2 separate regions of the Homo sapiens genome follow, and region 2 is linked to region 1. Evidence: fine-mapped expression QTL. A gene starts in region 1. The other region holds a variant in brackets. All regions are shown on one strand. Distances are between the middles of the regions.

Evidence for each region.
Region 2: its variant is fine-mapped to the expression of MRPS18A in spleen (GTEx, PIP 0.92).

What each region holds. Positions count from the first base shown.
Region 1 is chr6:43,682,912-43,691,242 of GRCh38, reverse strand. It overlaps MRPS18A (mitochondrial ribosomal protein S18A), which reads left to right and starts at 3,452. Exons shown (of 6, transcript NM_018135.4): 1 at 3,452-3,575. The coding sequence starts at 3,464. It overlaps LOC124901320 (a long non-coding RNA gene), which reads right to left and starts at 2,281. Exons shown (of 2, transcript XR_007059586.1): 1 at 1,904-2,281; 2 at 1,350-1,572. RefSeq lists enhancers at 3,082-3,693, 3,639-3,698, 7,086-7,135.
Region 2 is chr6:44,529,278-44,537,608 of GRCh38, reverse strand. No RefSeq gene overlaps it. Among named protein-coding and RNA genes, the nearest start is that of MIR4642, 98 kb to the right of the region's middle. The variant A/T (reference allele first, on the strand shown) is at 3,627.

The DNA of each region.
Region 1 (8,331 bases):
ACACAGTTGATACCAGAGTAAACTGGTACAATCATTATGGAAAATTGTTTGACAGTATCTAGCCTGGCCTTTGGGCCAGACATGGTGACTCGTGCCTGTAATCTCAGCAGTTTGGGAGGCTGAGACAGGCAGATTGCTTGAGCCCAGGAGTTTAAGACCAGCCTGGGCAACATGGGAAAACCCCACCTCTGCAAAAAATACAGAAAATTAGCCGGGCATAGTGTCATGTACCTGTAGTCCCAGCTACTCAGGAGGCTGAGGTGGGAGAATCACCCGTGCCCAAGAAGTCCAGTCTACCGTGAGCCATGATCACGCCACTGCACTCCAGCCTGGGTGACAGAGCAAGACTCTGTCTCAAAAAAAAAAAATTTAATTTAAAAAGGCTTTTGTAAAAACTGTCAAGGCAATATCTTCTACTAAAGCTGAGCATAGGCATACCCTGCAACCTAACAGTTCTACCGCGAGATAGGCCCCAAAGAAGTTTGTTCTTGTGTTCACCAAGAGTCACGTAGAAGAACGTTACAGCACTCTTTGTAGTAGTCCCAAGTGGCAAGTATCTAAATTCTATCAACAGAAAAAAAAGTGATTTTTTAAAATATAGTATATTCACAGTGGAATATTATATAAAGGTCAAATGCAGGGAAAAGTAATGTATTGTGCTAAAAGTCAGGATAATGATTATCCTTGCGGGGTAGTGTCTGGAAGGGGACACAATGGGGTGTTCTAGAGTGCCAGTCAAGTTCTGCTTGAACATGCCACTCCACTCCAGTATGGGTAGTGTGTCCCTTTGCGAAAATTCATCAAGCAGTACACTGATGATTTGTGTGTTTTGTTGTTTTTTGTTTGTTTGTTTGTTTGGGTTTTTTGTTTTTTTTTTTGAGACAGTCTCACTCTGTTGCCCAGGCTGGAGTGCAATGGCGTGATCTCGGCTCACCGCAACCTCCACCTGCAGGGTTCAGGTGATTCTCCTGCCTCAGCCTCCTGAGGAACTGAGATTACAGGAGCCTACCACGCCCAGCTAATTTTTGTATTTTTAGCAGAGATGAGGTTTCACCATGTTGGCCAGGCTGGTCTCGAACTCCTGACCTTAAGTGATCCACCTGCCTCGGCCTCCCAAAGTGCTGGGATTACAGGCGTGAGCCATTGTACCCAGCCTGTGTATTTTTCTTACACAGGTAATACTTTAATTAAAAGATGTGTTGTTTTTTAAAGCTAGTCTCCTGATCCAAACCTGGTCTCACAGAATTGTAGGGACTAATCATAAATGGATTCAGAAAAATAAGATATTATAAGGCAAAGAATATCCACAGTATTATTTCATCTTGCTAAATGTAAACAATGCTTATCTCTGGATTTTAGATGACATTTATTTTCTTTTTACTTTATTTATTGTTTCATTTTTCTACAATGATCACATGTTACCTGTCATAGTTGTTTTTTAAAATAAAATTTGTTTATGATAAGTTAAGATAAGATAATGAGAAGAGGGTTGGCACTCGAATGCTTTAGCTCACTGTGTCCAAAGCAAGCCCTGGGTGGGGCTCTGTTGCTGCCCTTGTCTCTACTGGATTCCTGGAAGTTGGAAATGGGTGAAGAAACAGAGGATGTAGTACAAACACAAAAGGTCATCTATACATCTATAAGCTCAAGGTCATCTATGCAGAACAAACTTGGAAGCTATAGGGAGAGTCAAAGCTTTCTTGATCCTGGCTGGGACACCTAGACCTACACCTCACTAAGACCCTCTGCTTCACTCCTAATCCATGTGTCAGTCTCTACCACCTTGATTGACTTTTCTTTTAAGTTTCCCCTTCACCGGGTTTACCTTTGCTAAATGAGATGTTTTAACGTAACCCAATGCTGCATTTCTCCTGTTCTCCCTGTCTATGGTGATGCCACTCACATTTTCCATACAGCAGCTGCTCTGCATCCTCCTATTAGGGTGACGGTCCCAACTGGATGATGGGCTCCTCTCCTACTCATCAGAAAACATGCTATGTCATTTAATAAGCCTGATTTTCCCATCTTGAATCAGAGAAGGATAGGAAGAACTGAGTTGTGAATGATTTTCCTTTCCTGTGGAGCTCCAGAGGAACATCCTATACGTCTCACAAATCTGAAAGAGGAAAAACTGGCAGTTGTATTTTCTCTTTGGTACCATAAGCTTCCTTACAACACAAGTGAGTCCAACTTGTGAAAAGAGTCATCTCCATAACTGCTCTATTAACTAGCTTATGTTTATTGAGCCCTTTTGTTTTGTTTTGTTTTGTTTTGTTTTGTTTTTGAGACGGAGTTTCACTCTTGTCGCCCAGGCTGGAGTGCAATGGTGTGATCTTGGCTCACTGCAACCTCCGCCTCCTGGGTTCAAGCGATTCTCCTGCCTCAGCCTCCCAAGTGTCTGGGATTACAGGTGCCCGCCACCACACCCACCTAATTTTTGTATTTTTAGTAGATAGGGTTTCACCATGTTGGTCAGGCTGGTCTTGAACTCCTGACCTCAGGTAATCCACCCGCCTCAGCCTCCCAAAGTGCTGGGATTACAGGCATGAGCCACCACACCCGGCCGATCACTTATGTTTTATCACATCTAATCTTCAGGGTCTAGTCCTCCCCTAGGCCCTATAAAATAGATTCTACTCATTCATTCAACAAGTATATATTGTACTCTTATTATGTGTCAGGAACTATTCTAAGTGCTGGAGATGTGCGAGTCAACAGAAAACAATGTTCCTGACTTCATGGAGCTTACAGTCTGGTGAGAAGACACATACAAAACAAACATAAAACTGAAATTGTCCCAAGCACTAAGATGGAGAGGCATCTGGTGCTGAGAATGGGCAGTCAAGCAAAACTGTGGAAATAAGGTTTGAGGTGAGCTCTAAGAAATAAGCAGAAGCTAACTAGACAGCTAAAGAGCAGACAAAGGAAATAGCTTGTATCAAGGCCCTGGGGCTAGAGAGAGGTCTAAGTATATGCAAATCAAAGATCAGTGTGGCAGTGGTCAGGGAAGAAGGGGGTATCAATTCTATCCCAGGTCTGCCTGATATCCGATACTCCAGAGCCAGAGTTCCTAACCATTTCAGCCTCTCCCGTAGAGGTCTAGCCCCAGTCACAGAAGCTAAAAGTCCACAGCTCACGTGCAGTGAAGAGAAAGCTTTAAAGACATAGGTGGGGTGTTGCGTGCGATTTTCCTAAGGAAGCCTTCCAGGAAACGAATGCAACCTTGAAGACTTGTAGGCATTGGCAGACAGGAGCTAGAAGACCTCCCCTAGATCCTTAACACGAAATATAGGCTTGACGCAGAAGCCTCTCTTCGTATCCCAAAGCGGACAGGTGAGAGAAATGATGTGACAGGAGCAAGCGAACTACAACCCCGCCCCGCCGTTCCTGCCCCACCACTGCGGCGGCGGGCGCTACGTTCCGGAAGCGGAAATGGACGAGAGGTCAGGGTAGGTTTTTGAAGATGGCGGCCCTCAAGGCTCTGGTGTCCGGCTGTGGGCGGCTTCTCCGTGGGCTACTAGCGGGCCCGGCAGCGACCAGCTGGTCTCGGCTTCCAGCTCGCGGGTTCAGGGAAGGTGAGTCATGCGTCCCAGCAACCTCCTGAAATTAAGAAGAGCGGCAGAGACTGCTTCCGCCAGCCCCGGTGCGCTCCTTCCTACCTTTCCTTCGTCCGATTCTGAAACTTTGGAGGTACCGGCTCCCCAGGCGTGCTTAAAAGCCCCTTCCACACCCTGGTGCCTTATCTTGATCTCCTGCCCCTTGTGAGTATCTTCACAAGGCGGAGGAGGACGGAGAGAAAAGCCTGCTTACTTAGCAGGAGCAGACACTAAACCTGTCCTAGGGCTCAGAAAAGTTTTCGGAAAGGGTTTGCATGTTAATTCTTCCTTCCATGTTCTCCGAATCGCAGTCTCTTTTATTAAAGAGTCTCTGGATCACGAAGGAAGGCCATCTGGGTACCCTCCCAGAGCCTCCCTTTCCACTTTCCCTTCTCAAAATGCTGTGATCTGATGGCGGCGTTCTCTGCCCCGGGCCGCTAGTCTCCCTGTGAGGGGGAGGCCAAAGTGGAAAGGCCATTGAATAGCTGAGACATAGGCAAATGCAGGATGGTAGTTCAGCTTTTCATTAATCTTAATCTGGGAAAGCGGCCTGATTCGAGCATCAACTGAGAGTTTACTGAATGCCAAGTGCTATGCTTCAAGCTGTGAAGGAATTCTGGAGACAGAAAATACAGCCCTTTTTCTGAAAAGCTTAGGTTCTAATGAGATTATGTATATACACACTCCAATAAATGCAAGTTAGCCTTTTACGTGACGAAGTACAGGGAGACTCAGTTACTGGAAACGGCAAACCCAGTTGGAAGTTTTCATAAAGAGGATGTGTCTTGAGCAGGCTCACAAAAGGATGGAATCTGGCGGAGAGTGAAACGGTCTTTTAGGACATAGCCTTCCTTTGTGTACTCCTGGAAGCAGGAAAGGATGAGTGATGTGCAAAAGAAGAGATGTGGGGTTTTTTGAGGATCTGGCATAGTATTGGGCAGCATATCCTTTAACGAAAGCTGAGAAGTATCCAGTGGAAAAGAGTGATCATTGTTGTCAGAGGGAGCAGAAAAGTCTAAAAAGGGCCTAATGAAGGGGCCATTGGATTTGTCTCAGAAGAGGTCTCTTTGTAGCTTTCAAACAGCAATTTCAATAGAGTGGCAAACAAGGAATCCAGTTTGGAGAAATGAAAGAGATAGTTGATGAAGAGATGGAAATAGTAAGTATGTTTGAAGAATTTAGCCCGTAAGGGAAGTGGAGCATTTGCTAGAAAAAAAAGTCTGGATATTGCCTGATTAACTTATCCATTAGTAGACCCATTAATAAAGACACTAAAGAAATCATGCAGATGATAGAGAGGACTTGGATGTTTCATTTGTTCCCATGCTGCAAAATAGGCATATCTCCATACCATTTTGGGGAGTCTACCAAGTGTCAAACACTATTGGCTACAATTTGCATATTCTTATGAAATTCAAAGTTGAGGCAGATTTTGCTATGCTTCCAGAAAAAAAGGCAAGAGGAATCGTTTTGTTTTAACAACAAATATTTGAAGTTAGACTTAATTTTTTCCTTTGGAGAGTTTGTGAAATGATGGACTGTAAGCCAGGTACAGTGGTACATATCTTTAATCCCAGCACTTTGGAAGGCCAAGGTGGGAGGATCACTTGAGCCCAGAAATTGGAGTCTAACCTGGGCAACGTAGTGAGAACGCCCACCTCTTTAAAAAAAGTAAAAAAGGATGGACTGTAAATCAAATGGGTCTCTGAAGTCCTTCATCTAAATGTTAGGTTGAATTAATATGATTCTACATGAAGGCACTACCATATTCTATATTCTTAAGAATCACCTATCTTCAAAGCTTGTAAATGAAAACATTTTCTTTTGCTAGTCTATGCATTATGTGTAAGGCATAAAGTATTATACATATAGCTAATTTTGACTAGTCTCAGCTGGTATATGTGACACCCAAACAATATTGTACACATAGAATTTAAAGTTGTGGGAAAGAAGCTGGTTCTCTTGCTGAAAATATTCAGGCATCCTACTTTTCAAAGTATCAGATAATAATACATAATTTTAGTCAGCTCTTGAGGACTGAGCACCAATTTTCCTGTCTATGAAGACTTTCAGTCTAAAACAGTGATTTTCAACTGGGGGGCAATTTTGTCCCCCAGTAACAATTGGCCATGTCTGCAGACATTTTTGGTTGTCACAACTGGTACTACTGGCATCTGGGGGGTAGAGGCGAGGGACGCTGCTAAACATAATGCACAAGTCAGTTCCCCACAACAAAGAACCATCTGGCCCAAAATGGCAGTCCTGCTGCTGTTGAGAAAGCCTGGTTTAAAGTTTGACCAGAGAGATACACAAAGCCAAAAAAAGGTTATTATGGGAAAAGCAAGACTGAAGGAGGACGAAAATAGAAATTGTGACTTACTGTGCCTGCTTCAAATACTGTGCTAGGTTTTCCACATACATTTATTCAGTCTTCTCAAAAACACCTTAAAGGTAGATATTAACTGTCCTCATTTTTATAAATGAGGAAATGCCGTTCCAAGGGGTTTAATAGCTTGCCCAGCATCACCTGTCTAATAAGTGATGGAGTTGGAAGTAGAGCCAGCCCTCTTCCCTCTCCACCAGTAACATCACCTTGGTATTCCATGGCAGGGCCTCCCTTATTGTTCCCTCCTTCCCTGAAAGCTCTTAGCAGTTAACTTGCCAAAGACCATTTAGTGCCATTATGGTTGGCACTGCCAGATTTAGCAAAGACTGTGTTGGATCTCATTCCTCCCTTATCCCTCTTAGAGCCCTTGTGAAGGAAATGTATTTAAAATAAAAAAACAAACATATTATTATATAAATTAAGACATGATTTGTCAGACACTTAGAGAAAGGTATATTGAAGTGAGTAAAGGCCAAAGGGAATTTGCTTCATCTCTTTCACAGTCAGTTAAGAAGGCCTTCTGGAAGACCTAACGTTTCAGACAAGGGTATGCCTGGCAGGTTGGGCAGTCCCATATAAAAGCTTTGAGAGAGGAGTGAGTTGGAGTCTTTAAAGAATTCAGGGGACATAGTCCAGAGTAACCTGCTAGTGGGAAGAAATTTTTGTGCAGCAGTAAGACGACTCATTCTGAAGCATAGGGCAGAGGGACATTCCCTCAGGGGTCCAAGGGAAAGAAAGGGGGAGGTGATGAGGGAACCAGAAACTTTAATGGTAGAGTTAAAGATGAACTGGAGGAAGCAGGGCTTGAGGCAGGAAGGTGTTTGCAAAAAGTTGTCAGTGGCCAGAAATGCAAGCACACATCCCAAACATGGCACACCTCTCCCTGACCCTACATAAGACTATTAGGGCCACTGCCCAGCCATCAGTTACTCCAGTCTTTCCTACTCTGCTTGGGCCCTGGTTTTTACAGATCCTCTCCAAGAGGGACCTTGGTCTCTGGGCACTTCAGCAGTGCCCTGCACTCCTCATCTTTTTTCACTTCCTCTTTTATTAAGCAGTTGAGTCTTTACATGGCTGCAGTTCACTGTGTCTGTTCATGTGGCCATCAAGGTTTTTTGCATTTTCTGTGTTTGTTGTTGTTGTTGTTGTTTAAGAGACAAGGTCTTGCTGTGTTGCCCAGGCTGGCCTCTAACTCCTTAGCTCAGGTGATCCTCCTGAGTAGCTGAGACTATAGGTGTCACCCCATCTCCTCCTTTTGCATTCACTGCAATCTCACCACAATGTCATTTGTTCCACACTGTTATAATTCAGTTATCTTGGACTCCATCCTGGGCAAGTATTTACTGAAGTACTCAAAGGACCTCTTTACGAGGCATGGACTTTATTATAGTCAAGTTCCCATGCAGAGTTTAGTTCTTTTCCTCCTCTAGGGCAAAGACTGTGGCTCCTATTCTACTGTAATTCACAGTAGGTAGAATGAAGCTGTATAGTCCATAAGTGCCCAGCAAATGTGTTGCCTCACTGGGGACAGATTATTTCATGTGTATGAGAAGTGCTTATCTGGAAAGATTTTGGCCCTTAGTTCCAGTTTAGAAAACTGCTTCATCTCTTCCCTTAGCTTACTTGATACTGCCATATCTCAGAACACAAGGGTGATTCCATCTTTTTCTAAACAAGTTTTCTGTTACTGCCTAAATCTCTCAGTCCAGCTTTTCTTAGCCACCCCCACTTCTCTTGAATAGGGAGGCAGCCAGGAACAAAATGGATCAGGTTTTGTTTGGTTTTGACACGTTTTTGTATGCACCCTGTAAATCAATACTATTTTGATTCCTATCTCCTCTTTCGAGGGGCTTAAAATCTACTAAGGGCCTCAAGGACCAGGTTCCAACAGGGCCTTCTCCCCCTGCACTAAGACACCACCCTGATCAGTGTCAGTTCAATGTGAGTTCTCAGGTCATTCCTTCTGGTTTGACAAATTGTCTCTGTTAGATAAGCATCTGCCTATTGTTTTACCCACTGGCTTCTAGTAAGATGATTCGCTGGCTCACAGTTGCTGCGTGGAGGGGGAGTTTGTGAACAGTGGAGCTTGCCATGGGCTTTGATCTGTTTTCCAGGGGCCAGTGGGATGACTTCAGGATTTGGTACTTTGCCGGGAGTGATGTGTGTTTTGTTAGACTTGTTTACCTCATGGTTAGGACCCAAGTGCCTCCACCAAGCAGGGAACCACATGTTTATCCACTTGTGTTTCAAGGCATTGTTCTTCTGCCGACTCCAGTGGTACCAGAACGTGTCTCTCCTTTGGTTCCTTTGGGGATTCTTAGAAACTTTCCCCACTACTTGTTGCTCAGA
Region 2 (8,331 bases), 850 kb before region 1:
TGGGTAATTTATAAAGGAAAGAGGTTCAATTGACTCACAGTTCAGCACGGCTGGGGAGGCCTCAGGAGACTTACAATCATGGGGGAAGGCGAAGAGGAAGCAAGATACCTTCTTCACGAGGCAGCAGGAAGGAGAAGTGCTGCGCAAAGTGGTAAAGAGCCCTTTATAAAACCATCAGATCTCGTGAGAACTCACTCCCTATCGTGAGAACAGCATGGGGCAAACTGTTTCCATGATTCAATTACCTCCACCTGGTCTCTCCCTTGACACATGGGGATTATGGGGATTATAATTCAAGATGAGATTTGGGTGGGGACACAAAGCCTAACCATATTGTAAATCATCTGGCCTTCTCCAGCATGGCTGAGCTGAGAATGGAGGGGACTCATGTGCTCAGAAGCAGCCACACGTGTTTCAGCCTCATTTCTGAATGAATCCACCAACCTTCACAACACTACCCACCCACTCACCATTCCTGGAATCCCGGGGATGAAAATCTTATGTTTTTTATTGCATTTGTGTCCACAGAGGCTCCAGGACACAAGGGTGCACACTCCTAGTGGGTCTCCCATGTTGCTAAGGTCTTATTAGTCCTGGGCCTACAGACCTCCCTAAGTGGTACATTCCTGACTTTTTAGGCACCATCTCTTTGCTGCCAGCCCAGGTCATTAACTCTCTAAAGCCTAATAATGTCACGGATATACCGAAGGCCTGTCTGCTTTCTAAGAAGAAAGGGAGCTCTTTCTTCTTGGGGATTACTAAAGTTAAAAGAAGCTACCCACCCTCATTACCAATGTTCTCATCACCAGTGTCACCGCCACAATCATGACCTCATCTTACCATCATCACCATCAACTCTGACATCATTCTGCATTCAGCAAGAAAGGTTAAGTATGAAGTTGCACAGGGTACTAGGTACCGCCTAGAAAACTTCAGAACCCTAGTTTCTTTTTTTTTTTTTATTTTAAGATGGAGTCTCGCTCTGTCGCCCAGGCTGGAGTGCAGTGGTATCTCAGCTCACTGCAACTTCCACCTCCCAGGTTTAAGCAATTCTCCTGCCTCAGCCTCCCGAGTAGCTGGGACTACAGGCATGTGCCAAAATGCCAGGCTAATTTTTTTATATTTTTAGTAGAGACGAGGTTTCACCATGTTAGCCAGGATGGTCTCGATCTCCTGACCTCGTGATCCGCCCGCCTCGGCCTCCCAAAGTGCTGGGATTACAGGCGTGAGCCACCGTGCCTGGCCAGAAACCTAGTTTCTAGAAGAATGGTCTCCAAAGATTAATCTCCAGAAAATAATCCCAGGAGATACGCCATATTTAAGAGAAAAAAAATTCCATTGCCAGTTGAATTTTAGAAAGGCTGCATTCTGACAATACCTTTTAGCATATTAAAGGCTCTGAGAAGTCCTGCAGGAGAGAAATCTGTTTATGGCCATTTGACACAATCTTTCTCAGGTATAATTTACCACTAAGTCATGTTTCCACCTAACTTCCATTAACATCACAATGAACACATGTCCCATAGAAGATACGTTGAGAAGGTAGCTCTAAAAGCTGAAAACTGCACAGGCAACAGTACCACGGATCAAGGCGTGCTCATGGGCCACCAGTATGGATGCTCTTCAGGTGTGTATCCTAGCACTCAATCACAAAACCTATCCTTTCATCCTAGTCCAAAGTGGTCATTCTCTCCTAGGCCCTGGAAGATGGGAGTCTTCATCATCTCTGCCTCCCCAGTGCTCACTGAGCGCCCTCTGAGTGTCTTATGGATACAAGCATTATTCATGCTGCCCTCAATATGGCCAATTTCCCCTTCACAAATCTGTGGACATCCCACAGCTCTGGATATGCGTTTTCCGGGGTGAGAAGTAACTAAGAAATGCTTCACTGATACCTGAGCCCTCACACGGCTTTCCACCTACAGATCCCCCTGCCTCGGATGAGAGAGGGGCCCAAGGAATTTCACAGTCCAACCCCCATGGACACGAAGGCCCAGAAAGGGCAAGAACCCACGAGGACCACAGTGGCTGATGCCCTCCCCCATTTCCTTCAGCTACAGCAGTGTGGGAATGGGGGCTGGTCTGAGATGGCATTTTCATTGGTCCAAGTTGAGTGGAGAGAAATAGGTCCCCAGAGTAGATTTTTCATAAAGTGAAATGCTTTCAACTTGAAGGGTGTCCTGAAATTGTCATCGCTACCTTGGGAGTTAGAATATCCTTAAATAAGGGTGAAATTGATGACAAGTGTATTAGCTTCCTGTGGCTGCGATAACGAAGTACCCCAAACTGGCTTAAAACAACCAACATTTATTGTCTCACAGTTTGGGAAACCAGAAGTCCAAGATCAGGGTGTGGGTAGGGCCATCCTCCTGCTAATCCTTCCTGTCTCTTCCTAGTTTCTGATGGGGGCAAGAAATTTTTGGCATTCTTTGGCTTACAGCTGCAGCATGCCAGCCTCTGCCTCCGTCTTCACACGGCCTTCTCCCCGGTGTCTATGTCTTCACCTCATCTTTCCTCTGTGCCCAAATGTTCCCTTTTCACAAGGACACCAGTCATATTGGATCAGGGGGTCCACTCTGCTCCAGCATGGCCTCATCTTAACCAATTACATCCACAACAACCCTATTTCCAAGGAAGGTCACATTCACAGGCACCAGGATTTAAGACTTCAACATATCTTTTTAGGGGGATATAATTCAACCCATAACAGTGGGGGGTTTTTTCCTAATGTTTTTACCAGGCAGCTCTTAGGCCGAATCAAGATGTGCATTTGCTTTTTCTTTATTTTTGTTGTTGTTTTACAGGTGCATGAAATCCCACCACTGGGAAGCTGCCGGAGGGAGCACTGTCCCCTGCACCCACTCTCCCGCCTCCTCACCCCCAAGTAGGCTGGTCCCCCAGGCCTCACCCTGAGGACTCCTAGGATGTTTGAGGACTAATTTCAGCCTCACTCTGTCCTCCCCAGGGACCCAAAGGGTGGCATTAGCAGCTTTACCTTCACCATGGCAGGTAGAGAAGCTAAGTGGCCCTCCTCCTACATCCCTAGCAGGGCCTCTCCCTGACTCATCCCAATCCCAGGAGGTTTAGATTCAGGCAGGGCTGACCTCAGCATTTCTTCTGCAGTGGCCCCTGCAGGCGGGGGCACATCCCTAGGACTGGCTTGGACTTTCTGGCTCCAGTTACAAAGCCTAGAGGACAGAGCGATGATTGAGGTCTTCTCGGCACGGGGATGAAGAGCACTCTCTGGCCCACTGTGTGCATGCTCAGGGCTCCTCTGGACTGACAGCTGCCTGGCACATAGTAGATGCTCCGGAAAAGCTTGTGGAGGTGAGCAGAATGAAACTGGATTTCATAGTCCCAGTACCATTTCATTTATTTGGCTGCACTGCTCCCGTCAAACCAGGTCCCTCTGCCCACTTTCCCTTGTCCAGCCTCTGTCAATTCCAACTTCCATCCCTTTGCTGAGGCTGTACCTGCTATCTAGAGTACTTTTTCCTTTCCTCCATGCAGGCAAATCACAGGCACATTGCAAAGATGAATGTAGTGCCTACCTCCTCCGTGCCTCTGGAGTTACAAAGCTTTTTCCTAGGCACCTGGGGTTAACACATTGTCCTTTACTACCTGTT[A/T]TCTGCTTATTAGAACCAATTTTCTCCCCCCAGTTGCACAACAAACACTGATGAACAACCCTAGAAACAAATGTTATACATCACTACATGCTCCTTATTCCTCCCCGAGGTCCATGGTTCTGTTTCACAGAAAAAGCATGAGGTTTGACTTCAGGCAGGCCTGGGTTCAAATCCAGACTCTGCTATTTACTAGCTGTGTGGCCACAGGCAGTGCCATACTCTCTATGAGCCTCATCAGTAAAATAAGGATAGGAAGACCACTTCGTATATTGTAGACACAAAGATGCACTTCCTAGATTCCCCTTCCAGGACCCATTACAGCCCCCAGTTCTGGGGCTGCAGTCAGCAGACAGCCCCCAGGTGTTGGCTCCTTCAGGATCTGGCTCAGCAACAGAGCTGTACCACTCCTAAGGCCACTTCCTTCCCAGGACAACCTGCATCCAGCTACAAAGCCAGATGGGGATATATAGGCCCAAGCCATTCCAGCCCAATACCGGACACTGATGGGCAATTCTTGCTCTACACTCCTCTCAGGGATGATCAAAGCTTTGTAGAGCTTGTGTCACAGTTCAATGTCTTCTCTGCATATCCTGCTTCCTCCCCCATCCCCACTCCTGCCCTAGTGTTAACCTCTAATAAACATCTCTGCTCCAAACTCCATCTCAGCATCTGCTTCTGACAAACCAATGTGTTGCAGAAAATGTAAGAATTGTAATTTATGATCTCAAGGCACCCAGCAACATGCTTGGCACATAGTAGGTGCTGAGAGACCTCACTTCCCTCCTTGCCCCAGTGAGGAATAAATGGAAGGCTCTGTGAAGGCAGTTTGAGTCGAATCTCTCCAAAAGGGTAGGAGAGTCCCAAGAATTCCTATGTGCCAAATTCCTGGAGAGGCTGAGCAGGAAGGACTCAAAGACACCCAGGCCCCTGTGATTAAAGACACATAAGTGGATTCAGATGACCAGGGAATATTGAAACTCACCCCCGCAAGTGGTGGTAGTCAGGGGTGAGTGGAAATCTATACATGGAGTGAACGTTTTCCAGCTCCTCCAGGCACTGCTGCCCTGCAGCCTCCTGCTGTCTGCCCAGGAGTGGAAGACTGCTCAGCTTTGAGGAGTTTTTTCTATAAAAATAACCCCCCACTATTATTCTTTGCAGTGTGAAGTGAAAACTTACCTGGATGAGGTTTCACAGGAAGCGTAAGTTGCTAGAGACAGCGAGAGGAGCTCCTGCACTGAGAGCAAGAAATGAAGCAAGTTCTTGGGATGTAGAACTAAAGGGAAGTAAGCAACAATTTTTTAAGTGTGGGTCTGACCTCAGAGTCCTAGTACCAATGTCTCCTCGGCATGAGAAACTGAGGTTTGGCCACAAGTCCCCCCTTTGCCTGCCTCCTAGGAGCCCTCATCTGCCTTCACACCAACTCTCCAACCTAAACAACCTGAAGGGTGGTTTCTATCAAGGCCATAATGGAGTACCAGCGACCCAGGGAGAAAGCACAGCAAATGTCAATACAGTCTTCAGAGCCAGGCAGCTCCCATCCAGCCTCAGCTCTGCCACTTTGTGGCTGTGTGACCTTAGGCAAGTTACTTAACATCTCAGAGCCTCAGCTAGCTATTACTATCTTCATTATCATGTTATTCTTGCCATGAAGAGTTAAGATTCCTGAGCAAAAGGATGAGCATGCCTTGAAACAAAAGCAAATCGTGTGCTCTGCCCTACTGGAGTACTAACTAGCACAGGCGGCTGGAGCAGTCGAGGTGAATTTCACTCAGGAGGTGGCATTCAAGTGACAGCTTGAGGGACAAACTTTGGATGGGTATGGGAAAGAGAGAGAAAGCAGAAGGCGTAAAATCTATGGAAGAAATCACAAAGATAGAAATGGGCATGGGAAGCTTGTGGGACAGAGACTGGGAGAAACAGATGGACATAGCCTCTGCTTTCCAGCCCTGAGGATTCAAAGGTGAGTGATACACAGTCCAGAAGAGAGAGGAGAACAGTCAAGGCAAATCAGGAACCAGCCCGGGAAACAGAGACCCACAGAGGACATTGAGGCAAGTGCATGACTAAGCCTCCCATGACAGCCAGGTGGGCAGGGAAGGAGGAGGAAACGGATGGCTGTGGAGGCCTTGAGACTTGCCCAGGTAGGCCGGGTCCAGAACTCCCACCCCAGGGCTCCTCTGGTGTGCGGGGGGCAGGTCAATCTGGGGGCTCCCCCTGACCCAGGCTGCTCCTGTCGGCACCCTGTACTCTATGGCTGCCCCACAAAGACCCAGGCCTCTCGAGGAGGCAGCCCTGACCAACCCACACTGCCATGGCTCTCACTGTGGTTTTCAGGAGCAAATGCATTCCACATGGCAGCCAGCCCCGGCTTTCCCTGGCAGGGATGAAGACGCTGTGAAAGGACCCTTTGCCTCCCTGCTGAGTCCCCCAAGAACAAGGCTTCTTTGTCTACAGCTGCTTCCCTGCAGAGTGAAACCTCTGATGAAGGCCGAGCCCCAAGCCTCAGGACCACCACTCCAGCCTTCTGTGAGCTGGCACCACTATTGGTGCCCACAAGCAACCCCCTTCTCTCCTTCCCCATATCACTCCCAGAATCCAGGAAGCGGTCCCTGGGATCCAAGCACCAGCCAAAGAGCCCCAGAAAGGAAAATAACCTTGAAATTGCAGAGTTGGGAGCCAAAATAGAGGCAAGCAAAATGTGGGTACCCCAAAGGTGTAGTGGGGAGGGGCCAGCTCTACACTGGGCAGGCCCCTAAAAAGGAGCTGGGGTCCAGGGGTATGTGGGAGCAGCTCAGTGGCTTCACAAGGCAGGTTCATGGCACACATTGCAGAGCTGCAGGGCACCTGAGCAGACCATATGTGGGTCTACAGACCCCCTTCTGAGCCCCATGCTAGAGACAGCCATATGAGCGTGTCATCACAGCCTCTGTCCTAGTGATGATGGCCGGCAGGCCCAATAACCACCACTTTACACCATCAATGCTTTAATACAAGCACGTACAAAGCCCAGGAAAGATGAGCCCAGGATGAGATGAGCCCAGGAGAGAGCAGCTATACTCCTGGGGGTACTGGGACCCCTTCTGTGGCCATGCACCACCCAGATCCCCCTTCAAGGAAAGACTTGCTTCTGCAGCTGCGGGCAGTGTTAGCAGCAGACAATCCCAGCTGTTGGCCCCTCAGCCATTGACTCAGCTGTAGACAGCAATCTCCCTCAAGGCCATGTCCTTTCCCGGCCAGCCCACATCCAGTGATTAAGCAAGACTGGGGGACTTGGAAGAGCCACCTGGGTCAAAAGCAGGTCCACTGTAAATGGGCCATGCTAGCTCCAGAGCTCCCCGTGGGGCCAGGGCTGCCACTGGCCTGCCCTGCAGCTTGGCTTCTCTCTCTGCCCATGCCTGCTCCCTCTCCCCTTCCCCAGGCACCCAGCATCCTTAGCACACAAACTCCCTCTCAGAGTCTGCTTCCCAGGGAAGCCAACCTGCAACAACTTTCCACAAAGAGGTGGCAGTGTTTTCCATTGCGTGTGGGGTCCAAGGTAGAAAGCACATCCTCTGACGCCACTCCTGCATCGGCAGCTGAACAAGAAGTGGCCCCAGGTCCACAGAGCCGAGTCCAGTGGGTGACCAGTGTATAAAGGGCAATAGGACCTTTTTCTACATTGGGCTTTTTCTAAAAGCACTTTTCTATTGTTAATCTGTCTTTTGTTACGGGGTCTCAGCCATGAACCTTGCAATGGGTAAGGAAAATACACTGCTTTTCTCCCCTACAACAGCAGTGGGGTGGGGTTGGGGTTGGGGCCGTATTTCAATATTTCAGAGTTATATTGATTGGCAGATTTTAGAAACAAGAAGCCTGGTTGGGAGCTCTGGCCTTGCCTCTTTGAATCATTCTGCAAACTTTGACATCTCGTAAGCTCTTCAATTCTACATTCTCTCCTTCCTCAGTAAATGCCTTCCTTGCAGCACTGTGGTGAGAAGCACTCAATCATATAGGCAAAAGTCCCTGGAACTCAGGAAATGCTCAATGCCTTTATTTCTTTACTCTCCATATAATGGGTCTTTGTCAATCAAGGCTACCAATGAAGAAACTGAGTCCCCTGTAAAGCAAAGATGAGTTTGTTTGACAATGTACACACTGAGTAGCCAACCTCCTTGCCTGACCGTACCTATCATGCCCCGTTCCACCCATCTGGACCCCAGCCCACTCTCACACCCTGGGGCAGGGGCCAGCATCTGGAGGGCTCCACAATGCATTCCGTTCTGTAGGAGAATAGTCAGCCTCCAGGAGATCCCTTCCTGACTTGGTCTGTAGCCCAAAAGGGTGCAAAGATGGGAAGAGGCATGGGCTTGGGTATTCAGATCTCCGAGAAAGCTGAACCGGAGCCAGGGCAGAGAGGGGCCAAGACAAGCCGGGACTGGGCGGGAGGCGGGTGGGGGTGGGGGGTGGAGGAGGGCAGCTGCCTGCCACCACCTATCACCACATCTGGGAGTCAGGGAACATGAGGCCCCAGAATGGGAGAGAACAAGGGAGGAAATTAGAGACAAAACGTGAACTTCATAAAGATTTTATTCAATCAAACTCCAAAAACAGCTGCAACCCCATAATGGCAGCCAAGGCTGGCTTTCTGATTTTTCACTTTGATTAATTATCTAATGACTTGCAGGGCTCCCTGCTGCTTTATGACTTGCACGTTTTTCTGTTTCTT